Homo sapiens: one gene and its partners. The protein of the gene in region 3 purifies or fractionates together with the protein of the main gene of each other region. This does not show direct contact. Each region holds a gene or a part of one and is shown on either strand. Other genes may lie near its edges. The genes, in order: DAGLB, RAB6B and PCDHAC2.

Region 1 (3,652 bases), on a different chromosome or scaffold from region 3:
TATAGCCATCCTAGTGAATGTGAAGTGGTAGCTCATGATTTTGTTTTGTTGTGTTTTGTTTTGTTTTTTTGAGACGGAGTCACACTCTGTCACCCAGGCTGGAGTGCCATGGCGCAATCTCGGCTCACTGTAACCTCTGCCTCCCGGGTTCAAGTGATTCTCCTGCCTCAGCCTCCCGAATAGCTGGGGCCACAGGCCATTTGTTTTTTGTCTCATGGCTTTGAGGAACATTTCTTTGGTGACTAATGATGTTGAGCATCCTTTCATTTGCTTATTGCTCATTTGTGTATCATTTTTGCGGAAATGTCTGTTCAGATCTTTTGCCCAATTTTAGACTAGGCTATTGATCCTTTTATTTTTTATTTTTATTTTTTGAGATAGAGTCTCCCTCCGCTGCGCAGGCTGGAGTGCAGTGGCGTGCTCTCTGCTCACTGCAGCCTCCGTCTCCTGGGTTCAAGTGATTCTTGTGCCTCAGCCTCCCATGTAGCTGGGATTACAGGCACCCGCTACCACGCCTGGCTAATTTTTGTATTTTTAGTAGAGATGCGGTTTTACCATGTTGGTCAGGCTTGTCTCGATCTCCTGACCTCACGTGATCCACCCGCTTCGACCTCCCAAAGTGCTAGGATTACAAGTGTGAGTCACCGCGCCTGGTCCCTTTTATTTTTACATTGTGAGGGTTACAACTATTTTGTTGTTGTTAGAGACAGTGTCTTGCTCTGTTGCCCAGGCTAGAGGGCAGTGGCGCAATCATAGCTCACTGCAGCCTCAAATACCTGGGCTCAAGCAATCCTCTCTTCTCAACCCCCAAGTAGCTGGAAGTACAGGCACGTGCCACCATACCTGGCTAATTTTTTTTATTTTTATTTTTTGTAGAGACAGGGTCTTGCTATATAGCTTAGACTGATCTTGAACTCCTGGGCTCAGGTGATCCTCTCGTCTCGGTCTCCCAAAATGCTAGGATTACAGGGGTGAACCACCGCGTCTGATCACCTATTCTTCATATTTTTTATATGTGTTACAGTTTTCTGTAGATAACCATTTATCTGAGAATGTCTCCAGAAGTGTTGGAAACCTTCCCTGTTGGATTCCTCTGCTTCATAGGATGATGTGAGCACTGTGGTGACTAATAAAGGAATGCATTCTTAGAAATGATTCATTGGTCAGAGGCAGGGCTGTGTGACATGCCACCATCCGCCATGTTTTAGTCCTTTGTCACTGCTTGAATTGGGATGGACGAGGTATGCATATCAGATATATGCTGGTGGTGAGGTGCACTGGGAGGCGCTGGTGATACAGTGAGTGACGGCATCAAGATCTTGACAGTTTGGAATAAAGGACTGAAATGTAAAAGGTGTTAGCTCATAGGAGCAATGTAGAGGGTAGAAATGTTAGCAGCAACATCTTTCATGAGAAAAAGACCTTAGGGTTTGGGATGACCAGCAAGAGTGGCATGTGCCTGATTACCACAGTAACATAGAAAACAGAGCTCTGTGTATTTTATTTTACTTTTTTCTTTTGAGACAGAGTTTTGCCCTTGTTGCCCAGGGCTGGACTGCAATGGCGTAATCTCAGCTCACTGCAACCAACCTCTGCCTCCCAGATTCAAACAATTCTGCCTCAGCCTCCCAACTAGCTGAGATTACAGGCACGTGCCACCACACCCAGCTAATTTTTTTGTATTTTTAGTAGAGACAGTTTCTTTTTTTTTTTTTTTTTTTTTTTTAGTAGAGACAAAGTTTTTTGTTTGTTTTGTTTTGTTTTTTTTGTTTTTTGTTTTTTTTTTCCGGATGGAGTCTCGCTCTTTCACCCAGGCTGGACTGCAGTGGCACTATCTCTATCTCGGCTCACTGTAAGCTCCGCCTCCCGGGTTCACGCCATTCTCCTGCCTCAGCCTCCCAAGTAGCTGGGACTACAGGCGCCCGCCACCGTGCCTGGCTATTTTTTTTTTTTTTTTTGTATTTTTAGAAGAGACGGGGTTTCACTGTGTTAGCCAGGATGGTCTCCATCTCTTGACCTCGTGATCCGCCCGCCTCAGCCTCCCAAAGTGCTGGGATTATAGGCGTGAGCCACTGCACCTGGTCTAGTAGAGACAAAGTTGAACCATGTTGGCCAGGCTGGTCTCGAACTCCTGACCTTAGCTGATCCACCCACCTCATCCTCCCAAAGTGCTGGTATTACAGGTGTGAGCCACTGCACCCAGCTAGCTCTGTGTATTTTAGTATGCCTCTAGAAACATCCACGCAAGGAGGCTGGATTGATGGAGGCTCCACGTTTGTGTTGGCCCCCAAATGTAGGCTGTCATTGGTGCCAGATGCTTAAGGAAAGAAAGAAACCATGTGTACAGTGTGGCTTCAGCGCTGGGAAGCTTCTTATTGAAGGTGAAGTATTGAGACTGGTGTCATTTCAGATACAGCATTATCTAACTTATTTGCCCTTTTTTGTTCATCTCACATTCTGGTTAGACCACTGAGTTTGTGGCTGTAATAGCAGGGTCAGAGTGGAAGCAGTCGGTGTACTTTTTTTTTTCCTTACATGTTTGTTTGTGTTGAGATATTTTTGGTGTTGGGACGTCTTTACCTCCCTGTGAGGGATGCTCATATTCACTCCGTTCCCTCTTCCTAGACACTCGTACAATGCTTGCATCATCATGTACTTGTGGTCAGAGCTCAGAAGTCATCTGTGGGTTGTCGGAGTGTTCTGGGTTGTCTATCCCACAGCCTCCTCCAAACAGAACCCCGTTTTGTTTTGCCCCCATCCCACACATACCAAGTATGCGTCAGAGAAGCAGACCCTAGGCCGGGCTCACGTATTGGTGATTGGTTCAGGAATGGACACGTGACCCAGTTTGGCCCAGTGAGAGTCAGGGAGAGTTTGGTGGAAGGTTCTGGGGAAGTGCTTCCTTGCCCCTCTAGGAAGGATCCAAAAGCCATTTATCGTCGCTCTCCTGGCTGAAGCTGTGTCTCCACTCACAGCGCAGGGCAAGCTGACATACAGGGCAGGGGAGAGCTGGGAGAAGCACAAGGAGATGGAGGCTTGTCTCGGTCAGGGCAGCCCCGATGCCGTCTTGCTTCTGCACTCAGTCGCTCGAGTCATTGTGGCCCTTCCTGCTTTTCAGCCAGTTTGAGTTGAATTTTCTGTAACTTGTGGGTAGAGATATCCCAGCCAAACTGAAAACAGTATTTTATAAAAACATGTTCGTTTAATTGTCAGTTTGTTGCACATAACATTATATGCCTTATTAAAAATATGTATTGAAGGCCAGGCGCGGTGGCTTACACCTGTAATTCCAGCACTCTGGGAGGCTGAGGCGGGTGCATCATGAGGTCAGGAGATCAAGACCATCCTGACTAACACGGTGAAACCCCGTCTCTTCTAAAAATACAAAAAATTAGCTGGGCGTGGTGGCGGGCCCCTGTAGTCACACCTACTCGGGAGGCTGAGGCAGGAGAATCGCTTGAACTCGGGAGGCGGAGGTTGCAGTGAGCCGAGATCGCGCCATTGCACTCCAGCCTGGACGACAGAGTGAGACTCTGTCTCAAAAAAAAAAAAAAGAAAAAAATGTTTGTTTAATTGTCAGTTTGTGGCCGGGCGCGGTGGCTCACGCCTGTAATCCCAGCACTTTGGGAGGCCGAGGCGGGCGAATCATGAG
Region 2 (3,652 bases), on a different chromosome or scaffold from region 3:
GTGGGCTGGCAGAACGACAAGAAGAGACAAGAAGGGTGGAAGGGACACTATGTGACACTGGGGGCCCCAAAGCTCCAGGACTCAGTGCCCCACCCTAACTAGAGTGTCCTCATCAGGGCTTCACTCACTCCCATCTGTTCCCAGCCTCCCTTGGTGTGGGGCTGAAGCTGTCATGGTCCTTCCTGCTCCCTGGGGGCATGCAGGAGAGACTGGGCTGCTACTCTTTGGGAGCCCTAAAGTCATGGGAAGCAGGGAAGCAGAGGGAGGGCAGGGCAGCACCAGGAGGTCCATAGGGCAGGTAGCATCTGCCTCAGCCGTCAGGGTCAGGGAGGCACTGATGCCCCTACCCCCAGAGTGCTCTGGAACCCATGCAGTGGTTTAGCAGGAGTTAAATGTGGTCAGTTTCGAACCCTGTGTGGCTCAGAGGAGTGTCCATGCAGTGCAGACTCCTGGATCTAAATGTGAGCATATCCACTCACAGAAACCCATACCTGACCCTAGAAACCCATACCTGATCCTAGAGCACCCTTCAAAATCCCTAGTGGCATTTTGGCCACTAGTAGAGGCTGTGACTGTTTTGAGAGCCAGACAGGCAGATCAGAGCCGCCCAGGGCCAATGCCATGAAGGAAAGCTCAGGAAGGATGGCCTGGGCCCTTTTACCCTTGCCTACTAATGGCTACCCCACTGCAGAGCCTCCTCTGCAGCCCGCCCACAAGGGTCTCACACCATGCTGGGCCCACCAGCAGCTTCCCCCCTTGGGCCCTCATGGCCTTTAGCCCTGTCACCCAGCCCGGGTGCTCAGCTGGGGCTGGGCTCTGGGGTGAGGCCATGAATAAGACTCACCCTGTCTTCAGAGAGCTCATGCAGTGGAGGGTATGAGCCCAGAGCCCACCCAGTTCCTGCAATTCACATTTGTGAGGACAGCGGGAGTGCTCCTGGGTTAGTCCTTTCAGGCTACCGTAACAAATCACTATAGGCAGGGTAGCATATAAACAGCAGAAATGTATTGCTTACAGCTCTGGAGGCTGGGAACTCCATGGTCAAGGTGCAGGCATATTCAGTGTCTGGTGAGGGCCCATTTCCTCCTAGATGGCACCTTCCTGCTGCATCCTCACAAGGTGGAAGGGGCAGACAGGCTCCCTCGGGCCTCATTCATAAGGGCACTCATCCCGTTCATGAGGACTCTACCCTCCTGACTAAGCACCTCCTAAAGCCCCACCTCTTTATACTGTCACATTGGAGATTCTGTTTCAACATAGGAATTTGCAGGGGGACCGGCATTCAGAACCTAGCAGTTCAGAGTCTTCTGTGCCTCATACTTCTGCCTCGTACCTGTCACCTCCAAGATTCCATCTCTGCCAGCACCCCATCTGCCACTTGCCACCTGTCCCCTGCCACCCACACCTGCCCAAACACACACACACACACACACACACACACACAGAAAACCCACATGTACGCAGACACACACCTTACCAAGGACACACACTATGCACACATTCCCCCCACACTTACACAAACACACACATAAAGATGCCACACGTTCACACACACCACACTCAAACATTCCCCCATATGCTTACACAAACATACATGCACCTACCCACACGCACCACTCACAACACACACATTTTCCACGCAGTCCTACAGATAAAACACATACACTGTACACACACTCCTACACACAATAAACAACTCACACTCCTACACATCCAAACAAGCCCACAAAATTGTGTTCACACTCCTGCATCCCTCGCGCTCTCAGAGAAGCCTCACCACTGTGCCCATGCAGCCCTGGCCCTGCTGTTCGCTGCCTTGGCGCCGGACCTGCAGGGCTCCCCAAGCAGAGTCATTCATCTCAAGGGCAAGTCACTTCCCCATGCCTGGTCCCCATGAGGGCTGTTTGCAGAAGCCCACCTTAAGGCCTGTCACCCAGAGGCCCAAACCATTTTCTGCACCAGAGGAAGTCCCTTGCAGTCACTGCCATGACCTAAGCTCATCCCAGTGACCCTATGGCCAGTCTGCTTGGGTGAGAGGCCACAGCTTTGTTCCTTCCTTCCACAAGCTACTGAGGCCTGCCCAGACCCAATGCTGTGAGAGGTGGGGGAGAGAGAACATAGGCACAGCCCCTGCCTTTGAGGGCACCGTCCGCTGGGCAGATGGGAGAGTAAAGCTGCAGGTTGGGAGGGGAAGAGGGGTGAGGGTGCAGGTGCAGTGAGGAGCAGAGGGGAGGGCCAGGGTTGGGGTTCACACTGCATTTCTTCATCTTTCCAGCTTTTTCGACGTGTGGCGTCGGCTCTACCCGGAATGGAGAATGTCCAGGAGAAAAGCAAAGAAGGGAGTATCCTTTTCCTTTGACAAGTGAGTGAAAAGATGTATAGAAGCCATTTATTCACTGAATATGTTAGTGCAGTGGACAGACACTCGCCCAGTCCCCGCCCAGCCTTCCCTGGTCTGCCGCGAATGGCACGGGGCCTCCTCTAGGCGGGATGCAGCTGAACCCTATGGTTTGGAGCCCCCGTCTGGCTCTAACCATCTACTTCTTCTTCCAGAATAGCAGGAAGATACCAAAGGGGTGTGCACAGAGTGATGCTGTGGGGTGGGGAGTGAGAAACAGCGACTTTGCCCTTCTTTACAGCGAGCATGTTTATGGGTTTCATGAACACAGGCAGAGTCTCCACTGCAGGGAAGTCTCTGTCACTGGGGATATGATCTCAACGTGGTTCAGTCTACTCAAGACAGCTCCCCCCTTCAGACAGATGCCCCCTCCTTGTCCCGCCCACCTTCTCTACCCAGCCCTGAACAGCTCCTGAGGCTCCCCACTGATCTGTGGGACCATTGCGCATCACCCACAAACCAGCCCCAACCTGAAGAGACACCTAGATGCTGAAACTGAGGTTCAGAGAGGTAGTCTGGTTTGCCCAGTGTCACACAGCATGTAAGTTACAGTTAGGATTCACACTCAGGCTTGCTTCCTCCATATCCAGCCCTATTCCATGTGGGACACTGTCCCTCTAAGGGCATTTGAGAGAATCAGATGAAAACTGTTTCAGCAGGGGAAGCCATTGCCCACACCTGGGCCTCCCCTGCATCTAGTCAGATGTCCCTGCCTGAGTAAGCCACCAGAAAACAAGCATGCAGATCCCTGGCTGGCATCCTTTACAGTGGACCTGTCCCTACACAGCAGCTCTCCAACATCCCCCACTGATCCTATAGGCCTCTGAGGGTAGACATCCCTGACAGATCAAAGAAGGGCCCTGGGAAGATGGAAGGGCACCTTTGGGCTGATGAGAATCAAAAGCAAAAGAAGCACACAGCTTAATGTTGGAGGCCTCATGGAGCTGCTGGGGCAGGGCGGGCAGGACACCAGGAGTCCCAGGGCTGCAGCAAGGGGGAGCCTGACACAGGCCTGGAGGGAAGCTAGGCCTCTCCAGCCTTGCTCAAGGAGCTCTCAGAGCAGACTCGAGACCCACCCCCCGGGGGGGTCAGGAAGGCTCACCAAGGAGCAGGTGCCCCAGCAGTCCCACGGTCTGTGTGTCACCAGAGGACAAGCAGTGGCCGAGAGGAGGGGGTTTGAGGAGTATCTCCTGGTTGGTCAGTTATGAGACTCCAATCACAGATAAGGAAACTGAGGCTCAGAAACTTAAACTA
Region 3 (3,652 bases):
GGATTGCCTGAGGTCAGGTGTTCAAGACCAGCCTGGCCAACATGGTGAAACCCCATCTCTACTAAAAATTCAAAAATTAGCCAGGTACGGTGGCAGATGCCTGTAATCCCAGCTACTAGGGAGGCTGGGGAAGAAGAATTGCTTGAATCCGGGAGGCAGAGGTTGCAGGGAGCCAAGATCGCGCCACTGCACACCAGCCTAAATGACAGAGTAAGACCCTATCTCATAAATAAATAAATAAATATAAATAAAACACAGACTTTTGTGTTAAGGGGACCTAAACATGACTGTCAGCTGAACTCAGCAATCAGACAAGTAATTTAATCTCTCCAAAGTTCAGATGTCTCATTTTTGCAATTTAAGTACAATAATGTTGACTTTGCATTATAGTTCATTTATTTAAACACATTTTAAAAACCTCCCAGATGCCAGAAGCCTGCTAGACTCTGACTATATAGCTACGCTTTTATGAATATCTGAAGATATGCATGTGTCTAATGAGCAAAACAGATATAATCCCTTTCATAGAGTTTACTGTCTGACAAAGAAAGAATTAGGATACATGCAACAGTATGTAATAAAGTGCAAAATCTAGTACTGTGTAGCTACTTAAAACATATTATATGCTTTCTTCCTTTCCTTTTCCCTGCCTGATCTTACTGCCATAAGAAATCTTGTAACTGTGATTCTGTCAAATGAATCTAAGAAGGATGTTGTTGCTGATGGACTAGTATAGAAAATAGCAGCATGACAAATTAAATGTGTCATTGGGGAAGTGAGATTGTATAATGAACTGAGTTTCCTGGTCAGTCCTGCTGGAACTGTGCCTTTCAGCAAAATGAGTTTGATGATTTCATTCCAAAGATCAAGTTGCAGCAATTTTCATCATGAATGTTACCCAATCATAGAAAAATTGGCAACATTTCTCAGCAGATGTTACAGTCTTTCTCAAAGGAAGGTTCTCTCAGCTGACAAGCTAACGATAGTGCTCCTGATGGCGAGGGGAGAGACGGTGATGATGACTGATTGATAAAAAGTATTTTAGTCATATTTCCAGGTTTATAAAATGATTTGCAAACATTTTCTTTTGTTCCCTCTAACACCGCTAGTAGATAATGGAAACTCCTTTGATTTGGTCTGTAGATAATTTTATGCTATGTTATATGGAATATCCACAGCATTTTGTGAACTTGAAAACAAAGGAGGAAGCAGCTTGCATATGCATATCTTGCTAGCAGATTGGTAGAATAGAGAGAGCAGTTAGCATGTGAGGACCATTGAGGTAAAGTATCCCAGAGTTGTAACTTTTTCTGGGCCTTGACTTTGGCTAATTCTCTGCATGCCAAATATCATGTAGCCATCCAGAAATCTGTCTGAATATTGAGATGGTGATCATTTCTCTCCTGGGTGTTATGAAGAAATGTGTTTATTAAATACTTTGCATCCCTTAAAGGAACTATATGAATGATAGGAATAAGAATTATTGACAGTTTTGAATGGTCTATTGATATTACTATGGCTTTGTTTCTACCAAATATGGTAAGTATAATGTAGAGGAAAATACAAAATACAACTTTTATCCCCCATTTTTTTCATTCAACTATACCTCAATATTCAGTGACAGGGCCACCTCAATCTCCGCCCATGAAAACGCATCTAGAGGAGTGTCACAAGTTTTTCACAGTGACATTTTTGCTTACTGATACAAGACAGTGATGGTGACTGATGATGTCCCAGTGATTTCTGAGTAGCTTCTAACCAGCACATAACTCCCCCAACAGTCTTTAAGTCTTTAGGTGCCCATATTTTCCTCTTTGTTCTCCCCCTTCAGACTGAGAGTTTGTAGAGAGAGGGCAACAGATCTTTTCAATACACAACTAATGCAAAATGTATCAGGTTTTTCTTGGATTTCAGCTACTCCCTGTTAAACAATCAGAGCTTAGTGAACAGTGATTCAGTGAGGAGGGAAAGCACTCAGGAAGGAGCAGGAACAAGTACAAGTTTATGAAAAGGATTAGCTAGCAAAACAAGGTCAAACTCTGCAATAGTTTGTTTTCCTCTCCCTAGTATCCCTCTTCAATCAGAAAAGAGACTGTTATCAGTTGCTGGTGTTATGACTGGGCACATCCGCCCTGGGTCAAATATGCTGCAGTCTGCAAAGCCAGCAGCAGATTGCAGTCCTCTGCAGTCCAGCCAGGCCAGCAGAACTTGTGTAGCCATGTGCCCTGTTATAGCTGTAATACTGAATTGGGAATGTTCCCTTAATGGGGCACTTGAGGGCAAAAGCAGTGAAAGCTTTTCCTTTCTCAAAGCAGACTGTTCTTCCCGTAGTGTTTTAAGAACACAGACATGTATTGGGCAAGGCAAAGCCAAAGGTGGCCTTTACAAGATTATTAAATCTGGTCTTCCAGGGTATCTAATCTGTGTGAGGACCCTGATGAACTAATTTTCTTCTAAAGTGCTATATATGTAGATATCATCATAGAGTTACACATGAAATGGCTCATTCAATACTTTTTTAGATGCCTGGAAATATTTAAGGGAGTAACTAATCAATTAGCAGCATTCCTGGGAGAACATTGTCTTGTCATTTTAACAGAAAACTCTCTTTGTGATTTTGCAGCCACGACAGCCCAACCCTGACTGGCGTTACTCTGCCTCCCTGAGAGCAGGCATGCACAGGTATGTATTTCCCTCCTCATTCACTCAGAAGTAACCTTAACTTGGTATGGCTCAGATAAACTGCATCTCCATAGGCCAGAAGCAGCTGTCAAAACTAAAAAGCTTTAGGTACTTTGCCAGGAAAATGCAATTATTTTGTCCCCATGTTTATTCCTTGAAAGATCGCAAATGGTCAGTGCCAGATGCTTATCAAGTGCTGGCATATAAGAGTCCTCTGTAAAATCACAGAAACAGGCTGCTATGTATTTTCTCCCATCAAAATTTCTACAGGGAAGTAATTTCAACCTCCTTCATCCCTCTCTACCTATGCTTTCTTTTCCTCCTTTAAAAACTGTAATTAATACTCATGCTTTGAGACTTGGGTACATTGTGCAATGTATACATACATGTTGTCTACCTTGTTTTTTTTTTAATCTCACATTGGCTATTACATCCTATTACCCTCAATAATTGATTGCTATTGTTGTTTGTGTTCACACCTATTAGAGCCTCCTCATCTTTCCCATCTGTTGCTATCTTATTGTCATCAATGACATGGTTCTTCAGAAGATGAGCCATGTAAAGGGCTCCAAATCTAGCTTACTTTAAATTAACCTAGAGTAACGGTATTAGTCTAAGACTCAGATTAAATATAATTTTGCTTTCTCTACTTTGTCTCTCTGACAGTAATTGATTAACTACCATTATTTCTGGAGGTGATCCAGTATCCATGCCATGGGGCCAAATAAAAGATTCATTATTTGCGAATGTCTTTGGAAACCAAATGGGAAGGACCAAGAAACAAATGATCACAACTATCAAAAGGATTTAATTTTAAAGAAGAAATAATCTTCAAACTTAAGCCCCTCAAAATATCTGGGCAACTATCAAGTGAATATTCACCAAACTTAGATCAGTTCGTAAAGAGAAAGCCTACAAAGTATGTGTAGAGTTAATGTGAAATTAGTTTTAGCCCATTAAAATGCATTAG

What was found.
Region 1: the proteins of PCDHAC2 (region 3) and DAGLB purify together in Homo sapiens (co-immunoprecipitation; 3 studies listed by BioGRID and IntAct, with this or other methods). This does not show direct contact.
Region 2: the proteins of PCDHAC2 (region 3) and RAB6B purify together in Homo sapiens (affinity purification with mass spectrometry; 2 studies listed by BioGRID and IntAct, with this or other methods). This does not show direct contact.

Annotation. Positions count from the first base shown.
Region 1 is NC_000007.14:6,441,324-6,444,975, reverse strand, and holds part of DAGLB (diacylglycerol lipase-beta), read left to right. Parts: intron 1-3,652.
Region 2 is NC_000003.12:133,833,265-133,836,916, reverse strand, and holds part of RAB6B (ras-related protein Rab-6B), read left to right. Parts: intron 1-2,275; coding exon 2,276-2,342; intron 2,343-3,652. UniProt on the Homo sapiens protein: The small GTPases Rab are key regulators of intracellular membrane trafficking, from the formation of transport vesicles to their fusion with membranes. Rabs cycle between active GTP-bound and inactive GDP-bound states.
Region 3 is NC_000005.10:140,976,326-140,979,977, forward strand, and holds part of PCDHAC2 (protocadherin alpha-C2 isoform 1 precursor), read left to right. Parts: intron 1-2,623; coding exon 2,624-2,682; intron 2,683-3,652. Other genes in the region: PCDHA1 (protocadherin alpha-1 isoform 1 precursor), read left to right, coding at 2,624-2,682; PCDHA2 (protocadherin alpha-2 isoform 1 precursor), read left to right, coding at 2,624-2,682; PCDHA3 (protocadherin alpha-3 isoform 1 precursor), read left to right, coding at 2,624-2,682; PCDHA4 (protocadherin alpha-4 isoform 1 precursor), read left to right, coding at 2,624-2,682; PCDHA5 (protocadherin alpha-5 isoform 1 precursor), read left to right, coding at 2,624-2,682; PCDHA6 (protocadherin alpha-6 isoform 1 precursor), read left to right, coding at 2,624-2,682; PCDHA7 (protocadherin alpha-7 isoform 1 precursor), read left to right, coding at 2,624-2,682; PCDHA8 (protocadherin alpha-8 isoform 1 precursor), read left to right, coding at 2,624-2,682; PCDHA9 (protocadherin alpha-9 isoform 1 precursor), read left to right, coding at 2,624-2,682; PCDHA10 (protocadherin alpha-10 isoform 1 precursor), read left to right, coding at 2,624-2,682; and 4 more. UniProt on the Homo sapiens protein: Potential calcium-dependent cell-adhesion protein. May be involved in the establishment and maintenance of specific neuronal connections in the brain.